Linked DNA regions of Homo sapiens. The protein of the gene in region 1 purifies or fractionates together with the protein of each later gene. This does not show direct contact. Each region holds a gene or a part of one and is shown on either strand. Other genes may lie near its edges.

What was found.
Region 2: the proteins of SUGT1 (region 1) and CEP97 purify together in Homo sapiens (affinity purification with mass spectrometry; 3 studies listed by BioGRID and IntAct, with this or other methods). This does not show direct contact.

What each region holds. Positions count from the first base shown.
Region 1 is NC_000013.11:52,662,719-52,666,473, forward strand, and holds part of SUGT1 (protein SGT1 homolog), read left to right. Parts: intron 1-377; coding exon 378-394; intron 395-1,316; coding exon 1,317-1,339; intron 1,340-2,918; coding exon 2,919-3,015; intron 3,016-3,755. UniProt on the Homo sapiens protein: May play a role in ubiquitination and subsequent proteasomal degradation of target proteins.
Region 2 is NC_000003.12:101,722,418-101,726,172, forward strand, and holds the start of CEP97 (centrosomal protein of 97 kDa), read left to right. Parts: upstream 1-2,196; 5' UTR 2,197-2,259; coding exon 2,260-2,302; intron 2,303-3,755. UniProt on the Homo sapiens protein: Acts as a key negative regulator of ciliogenesis in collaboration with CCP110 by capping the mother centriole thereby preventing cilia formation. Required for recruitment of CCP110 to the centrosome.

The DNA of each region.
Region 1 (3,755 bases):
TGGTATTTGTTTCAATTTAAAAAGAAGTAAACATCTGAAATTTTTTTGGTTTAAACAAATTTGTTTTTATCTTTATAATTTCTTTTAAATAGTATACGTTTCCTTAGATGTGGACTTCCAAAGATACACTGGTTTTTGCATAGCTTCTTATGTTGAAAGGGGGATTTGGGTGGATTTGCTTGTATGGTATATCAGTAAGAAATTACTAAGGAGTCTAAAATGAATTCAGGATGCAAAATGAAACCACTTTTCTTTAGTTGAAAGGTACGGAGAATTTGCTTGCTTAATCAGTATGTTTGTGCTATAGAAATCATACAAATAACTTTGCTTAAAAATGCACTGTTCCCTGAAAATGTTTCCTTTTTATGTTTTAATAGGCTCAGAATCTGAGGTGGTAAGTCCAAAGTTTTCATTCTTCATGTTTTTATTATTTTAAATTTCAGCTACCAAATATATTTGAGACAAGACTCAGGATGAGCTGTCTGATATTTAAATATTAAGCAATTCCATTTAAGTGCTGGTTCCTCTAGGCACTGAAATAAAATCATTTTTTGATAAATATAGAAGTTTCCAGTCATGAAAATTATTGGCCTATTTTAATGAATTTAGTGTGTGGTTAAAGTTGATTTCGTGTGTTTTAATATGGTCATGATGATCATTTATCTTTTCGTTACTAAAACCTTATTGCATTTATTTAGGTTCAACAGTTTGAATCACTTGTAGGGCTTTTTATGATAGGCTAAGACAAAAGTTAAAGAAAATTGGAAATTGACAGGGTCTTGCTCTGTCATGCAGGCTGGAGTGCAGTGGTGCCATCATAGTGCACTTGAGCTTCAAACTCCTGGGCTCAAGCAATCTTCCCACCTCAGCCTTCCAAGTAGCTGGGACTACAGATGTACACCACCAAGCCTGGCTAATTACTCTGTTTCTTTAAAACGATTTTTAAAACAATGTTATTTTAGTTTAGGAAGTTGCTGAATCTTAGAACTGGCCATTTTATATAAGCAACCTTTTCTAATCATGCCTTTAGAAGTTTTCTGTTATTTAAAGTTCTGTTATTTTAGAGCAAAAATCTTTTATGAAATTCAATCTAAGATTTTTTAAATGCTGAGCATTCTAATTTTTTTCCGAAAACTAGTGGTATTTAACAATTACAGTTACTATGTCTTTGAAGAAAATTTTCATGTAGTTATTTTATATCAAAATAACTGCAGTGTTGGGTAAATTAATAATACATGCATTTTAATAATACAGTTGCTAAACTGACTTGTAAAAATCTTTCTCTTTCAACTTACCAAAATCAATCTGCATCCCAGTGGACTCATCAGTCAAAAATCAAGTGAGTGTTTCTTTTTCATAAAACAATGCATGATAAATATGCCTAAAGAGGAAGAAACCCTGTAGTTTAATAGTAAGCAAATTCTTACCATGTGATTTTTAAGTTTTTGTTTGTTTTCTAAAATTGTGTAATAGCTTTATGTAAAGCCAATTTTAAGGCTGTTTAAGGATTAATATTTGTACTTCAGTTAAATTCAAATCATTTCTCATCTTTAAAGTTGCTTCACTTGGTTTCATATTATGTTACCTTTCCATATGTTAAGGAGAGTCTCTTCCAGTTAAGTTTATGTTACTACACAGGTAAACAAGTTAGTAGTAGATCTAACAGAATTGTAACTTAACCTGCCTTTTATATTTGGAGCAAATTTTTCATAGGAACATTCTGTATGCGTTGAAAGTTAATATTGCTGAGGGCAGCAATTATAATAATGAATAAGCAACTAGCAAGTCTTTGACTTTTAATTATTCATTAGCCTGTGTACAGCTTGTATTCTTAGGACCGTAACAGAAACACAAGCCGTTGATCTGGAGCTTTGCATCCTTACTGAATTGCAAAGGGAAACCGAGACTCTTAAAGTTCATTTCTTTAATCAAGGTGGTTTTGGATATAATTACCTAAAATGGCCTGGAAAAGTTAAAAACCATCTATTCATGGTAGTTGTGGGGAGATACAGGATGAAACTCCAAGTACCTAGTAGATAAGGAACTTTGACTTGCCCTGGTGGCAGCAGCAGGGGTAGGGCACATAACCATGAAATAATAATTAAGGTGTTCAGAGCATAAAATAATCCCACATCTAACTTAATATACGTGTACCGGACACTGTGCTTGGTCCTAGGGATATAATAGCGACAGGATAAACAGCTCTGCCCTCAGAGAGCTTTTAATCTAGTCTAATTTGAAAGTGAGGATTCCTACGTTTCTAGAGCTTTCAGTACAAAAGATGCACATAATTAGAATCTAGACCCATTAGTCTTTCCATGTATCTTGAAATTGAAGGAAAGTGTTGTATATGATGTTGTGCCTGACACAGTTAAACTTCATATGATTTTAATTTTAGTTCATTTGCCCCTGTTTTGTGTGCTCAAGTCTATCTGCTTCCAACATCAGTTTTGAGAGCTTGGAGTGTTGACTCAGGCTTATTGCTTCACCTTTCTGAGCTTAAGTTTTATCATCTGTAAAATAGGGATTTAAGTGTTTATCTGTAGTATTTGGATGAAATGAGAGTATAAAAACTCTATTGATGGCATATAAATATTAGCTTGTTTAAAATAAATGACATCTTTAATATTTATATTAGTTTAAGCACAACAGTGCTAGAGATGAGTCAGAACCCAGAAAATCATGCAAGTATTTAAGTCTACTGGAAAGGTGTGAGCATCATTTACCTTACCATTTTTTTCCATTAGTACAGAGCATAAAAAACTAGTTATATAAAGTTGTTTCTGTGAATCAGTAGTTGCTTTGCTGTTTTCTTCCTCCAGGTGGGGCTCTTGTTGTTTATCAGACTAGTTTTTGTTTTGACAATAGCTTTAAAAAAATTAGAAGAGTTACCTAAGTTTCTTTTTTTTTTTTAATAGGTATGACTGGTATCAAACAGAATCTCAAGTAGTCATTACACTTATGATCAAGAATGTTCAGAAGAATGATGTAAATGTGGAATTTTCAGAAAAAGAGGTCAGTAGACTGAATCATTTTTCAATGTTGATTACTATTATTTGCAAATTTAGTATATTGCAGAATAATCGATAACGGTTTATCAGATAAATGCTATTTCTTCCTGAGATGATTTGGAAAATGTTGAATAAAATCTGAAGCCATTGCTTTGAGGTAAGAATATGTATGTTGGTAAATTATAGCTGGATGTGCATTTTTTTCTTTAGATTTGAAATTTAAAGCAGAATTTGGTTATATTAGTAAGATAATGTGCTTTGGTTATACTTGTGTGGTGTACTTCATGAAAAAGATCTAGTTAGTTTTGTGATCACACATGTCTTAGAATTGACTAGCCATGTTAAATGAGTATGACTTTTTTTGTTGTTGTTTTTTGAGACAGAGTCTCGCTCTTGCGTAGGCTGGAGTGCAGTGGCGCAATTTCGGCTCACTGCAGCCTCCTCCTCCTGGGTTCAAACAATTCTCCTGCCTCAGCCTCCTGAGTAGTTGGGACTACAGGCACATGCCACCGTGCCTGGCTAATTTTTGTAGAAACGGGGTTTCACCATGTTGGCCAGGCTGTTGTCGAATTCCTGACCTCAAGTGATCTACCCATCTCAGCCTCCCAAAGTGCTGGGATTAGAGGCATGCACCACCGTGCCCAGCCTCTTGAGTATGACTTTTAACAACTTGATTTCTTACCATTTAGTAGAGAACCTTATAATAGATTATTTAAAAGAGGTAGTGATAGAACTGTATGTTTT
Region 2 (3,755 bases), on another chromosome or scaffold:
CATGAATTACTAGATTTTCCCAAGCAAAAATGATCAGACTTTGCAGATTGCTGTTTCAGAAAGAGGGGAGTTCAGAATAAAGGTTGCAAGAGGAAGTGGGAGAGCTGGTAGTAGAAAGCAGAAGTTTTTTGTATACTCTGTTTAGTTTCTCACTTCCTGTGAGCACAACTTCGTTACCACCTGCAGCCTGTGCTGTCTTTTCACCTTTTACTTTAGAACTAACTGTTCAGTCTACCCATCAAAAGATGGGTACATTTACTTCCTCCATCAAGTCTTCACTGAAGATTTCAGATTCTATTTCTTTCTCAATTCCCTGAAATATTAGTGAGCTCAGTCACAATCACACCGTTTAGCATATAATAGTTGCATCAAAAGAAGGCTCGGCGCCGTTGCTCACGCTTGTAATCCCAGCACTTTGCCGGGCTGAGGCAGAAGGATCACTTGAGCTCAGGAGTTCAAGGCCAGCCTGGGCAAAAAAAAATTGTCTCTAAAAAAAAAAAAAGAAAAAAGTGTGAGCCTGCTTTCTTCCAACTAGGCAATGTATTTCTTGAATTTGGAGACTATATAAAAATATATTTATATACATAATCTATATTTATATATAAATATATAACATATATAATATATAATATATAAATATATAACATATATAATATATAATATATAAATCTATAACATATATAATATATAATATATAACATATATAATATATAATATATAATATATATAACATATATAATATATAATATATAACATATATAACACATATAATATATAAATATATAACATATATAATATATAACATATAACATATATAATATATAAATATATAACATATATAATATATAATATATAAATATATAACATATATAATATATAATATATAAATATATAACATATATAATATATAATATATAAATATATAACATATATAATATATAATATATAAATATATAACATATATAATATATAAATGTATAACATATATAATATATAAATATATAACATATAACATATATATCTAAATATATAACATATATAATATATAATATCTAAATATATAACATATATAATATATAATATCTAAATATATGACATATATAATATATAATATCTAAATATATAACATATATAATATATAATATATAAATATATGACATATATAATATATCTAAATATATAACATATATAATATATAATATCTAAATATATAACATATATAATATATAATATCTAAATATATAACATATAATATATAATATCTAAATATATAACATATATAATATATAATTTATATATAATTATAATATATGCAATATCTATATAAAATATATATATTTTTGAGACATAGTTTCGCTCTTGTTGCCCAGGCTGGAGTGCAGTGGCATGATATCGGCTCACTGCAACCTCTGCCTCCCGGGTTCAAGCGATTCTCCTGCCTCAGCCTCCCGAGTACCTGGGATTACAGGCATGCGCCGCCACGCCAGGCTAATTTTTTTGTATTTTTACTACAGACGGGGTTTCTCCATGTTGGCCAGGCGGGTCTCGAATTCCCGACCTCAGGTGATCAGCCTGCGTTGACCTCCCAAAGTGCTGGGATTACAGACGTGAACCACTGCGCCCGGCCTGGAGATTATATTTTAAAGTTATTTTGAATACTCCCTGGAAAAGTTCTTGGTTCATACTTATACCCGTAAGTCAAAAGATTTGTCAAATATTCAAGAACAATCAAACAATCACTTAAAAATACTGTATAAAAGTTTCTATTTCGGCATACTTTACTTTTACTTAACTAAAATTTCAAATAAAATGTATCCACTTTTATGATCTCAACAAGATCGGTCATTCCTATAGCGGAGTTGAAAACTTTCAACTTATTCACAATTATCAAAAGAATGGAGCAGCCCCCACAGAGACTTCCAGCAATGAGTTGTAAAATGCAGTCTGCATTAAGTAGCTTCCTTACAATCATCCCGATGGTAAAAGTGTCAAATTTCGCAAACGCCTGGACAAGGAAGTGAAATGATCATCTAATAACGCAGTTGACTCATCTGTCAAATAAGCGAGTGGGCCAGGGTCCCTGAGCTCACTACCCTCAGATTCTAACTCCAGCTTCACATCATTAGGCGTAAGCAGCCAATTGGGCCGTCTGGGAGCCGTGCATCCTGGGAGTTATAGTTTCCGGCTCCCTCCTTCAGATTACAAGCTCCACAGAGCCGCGGGAGGACGGTTGCCTGGTATTATTAGCAAGCAGCAAATATGGCGGTGGCGCGCGTGGACGCGGCTTTGCCTCCCGGAGAAGGTAAGGCGATCCCTACCCCGAGTCCTAAGGTTTACTTCACGGAGCTGAATTAAATAGTGGAGAGCAGAAAACCTAGGTTTAGATGTGCAGTTCTGGACCAGTTCTTTTGATGCGGATCTGTGGTCGTCGCGGAGGCGGGCTACCCTCTGGGAGTTGTAGTTCACCTGCCGTTCCCAGCTCTCCGGCGTCGCGGTGAGGGCCGAGCGGGGGACTACAGCCCCCAGAAGCCTTCGCGCGGCCCGGCGCCCTGGCTCCCGCGCTCCCGATGCTGAGGAGGCGGTGGATTTCGGGCTGCGATGACCTTTCTTGACCATTTACTTTGAGTCATGGGTGCCTAAGCGAAATGTTTGGGATCTCCCTCTTTCGCTTCACACATCTCCCTCTCTTCTTGGTTCCTGGAACCATCAGGAAAACCTTCCCTCAGAGACCGCTGCCTAGTCTGGCTTTGAACCCTTCCTCGGAGGTGGCCAGTGGCCGTGATAAAATCTAAGGGATGATCCAGAGCCCGCAGTTCTGTACTCCTTGTTCTTGCACACGGGTCCTAGGATCGAGTTTGGTCGCTGCCCAGTAGAGCACAGGACTGTGTGGGTGCTTCTGTGGCCTGAAGATACCTACCTCTTTGGGGCGCCGGACGCGAGCTGCTTTTGTTTTGGTTACAGCTCCGAGGCTTGGCAGCAGTCAGTCCTCTAAATCGGGGACAGGGCCCAGGGGTCGAGGCCCGTCTTCATGGCTTAGACCAGGAGTGCATTTTCTGGGAGCTGTAAATTCTTGGGGGAAGAGTTGGTGGATGGTTCTCAGACCTCTCTGTCGACCCCTTGGAATTGTGTACAAAGGCTGTGCACTTTTCTGAGACAGCACACCCCTTTCATCAATTTTTCAGAGGGGCTCACGACTCCTCACATGCTAAGAGCCATTAGACAACGGGAAAACGTTGAAATCCTCCAGGAGAGCAATCTGGCATAATTATTTCCTGCAGTAGTCCTAATCTGGGTGTAAATTTGAAATTGGCCGTTTCTCTGGCCCCGCCCTCTTTGGAGATCGGCTTTTCTTAAACCACACCTCTCAAGCCCACCAGGGCTACTTAACTGTTAATAGCAGTTAACATTTACAGAGCACTTTGTATGACCCAGGCGATGTTCTCAGTCCTTTTTTTTTTTGTTTTTTTTTTTACATTATCTCATTTTCTCTGTAGAACTACATTTATAAGGCAGGTATTATCCCCACTTTACAGAGTAGAAAAGGGAGCCCAAAAGAAATCAATAATTTGCCTAATATACCACAATGGTTAATTGGTGGAGCCAGGGTTTGAACGTCTATGTTATACTAAAGTGCCTTATTGAGTGCCCGGTGGCAGGAACGGGGCTAAGTACTATTCATATGGTTTCTCTTTTAATTCTCATATCAAGCTAGGGAAATGGGTGTATTATCCTATTTTATGGGAGAATTAGTTGAA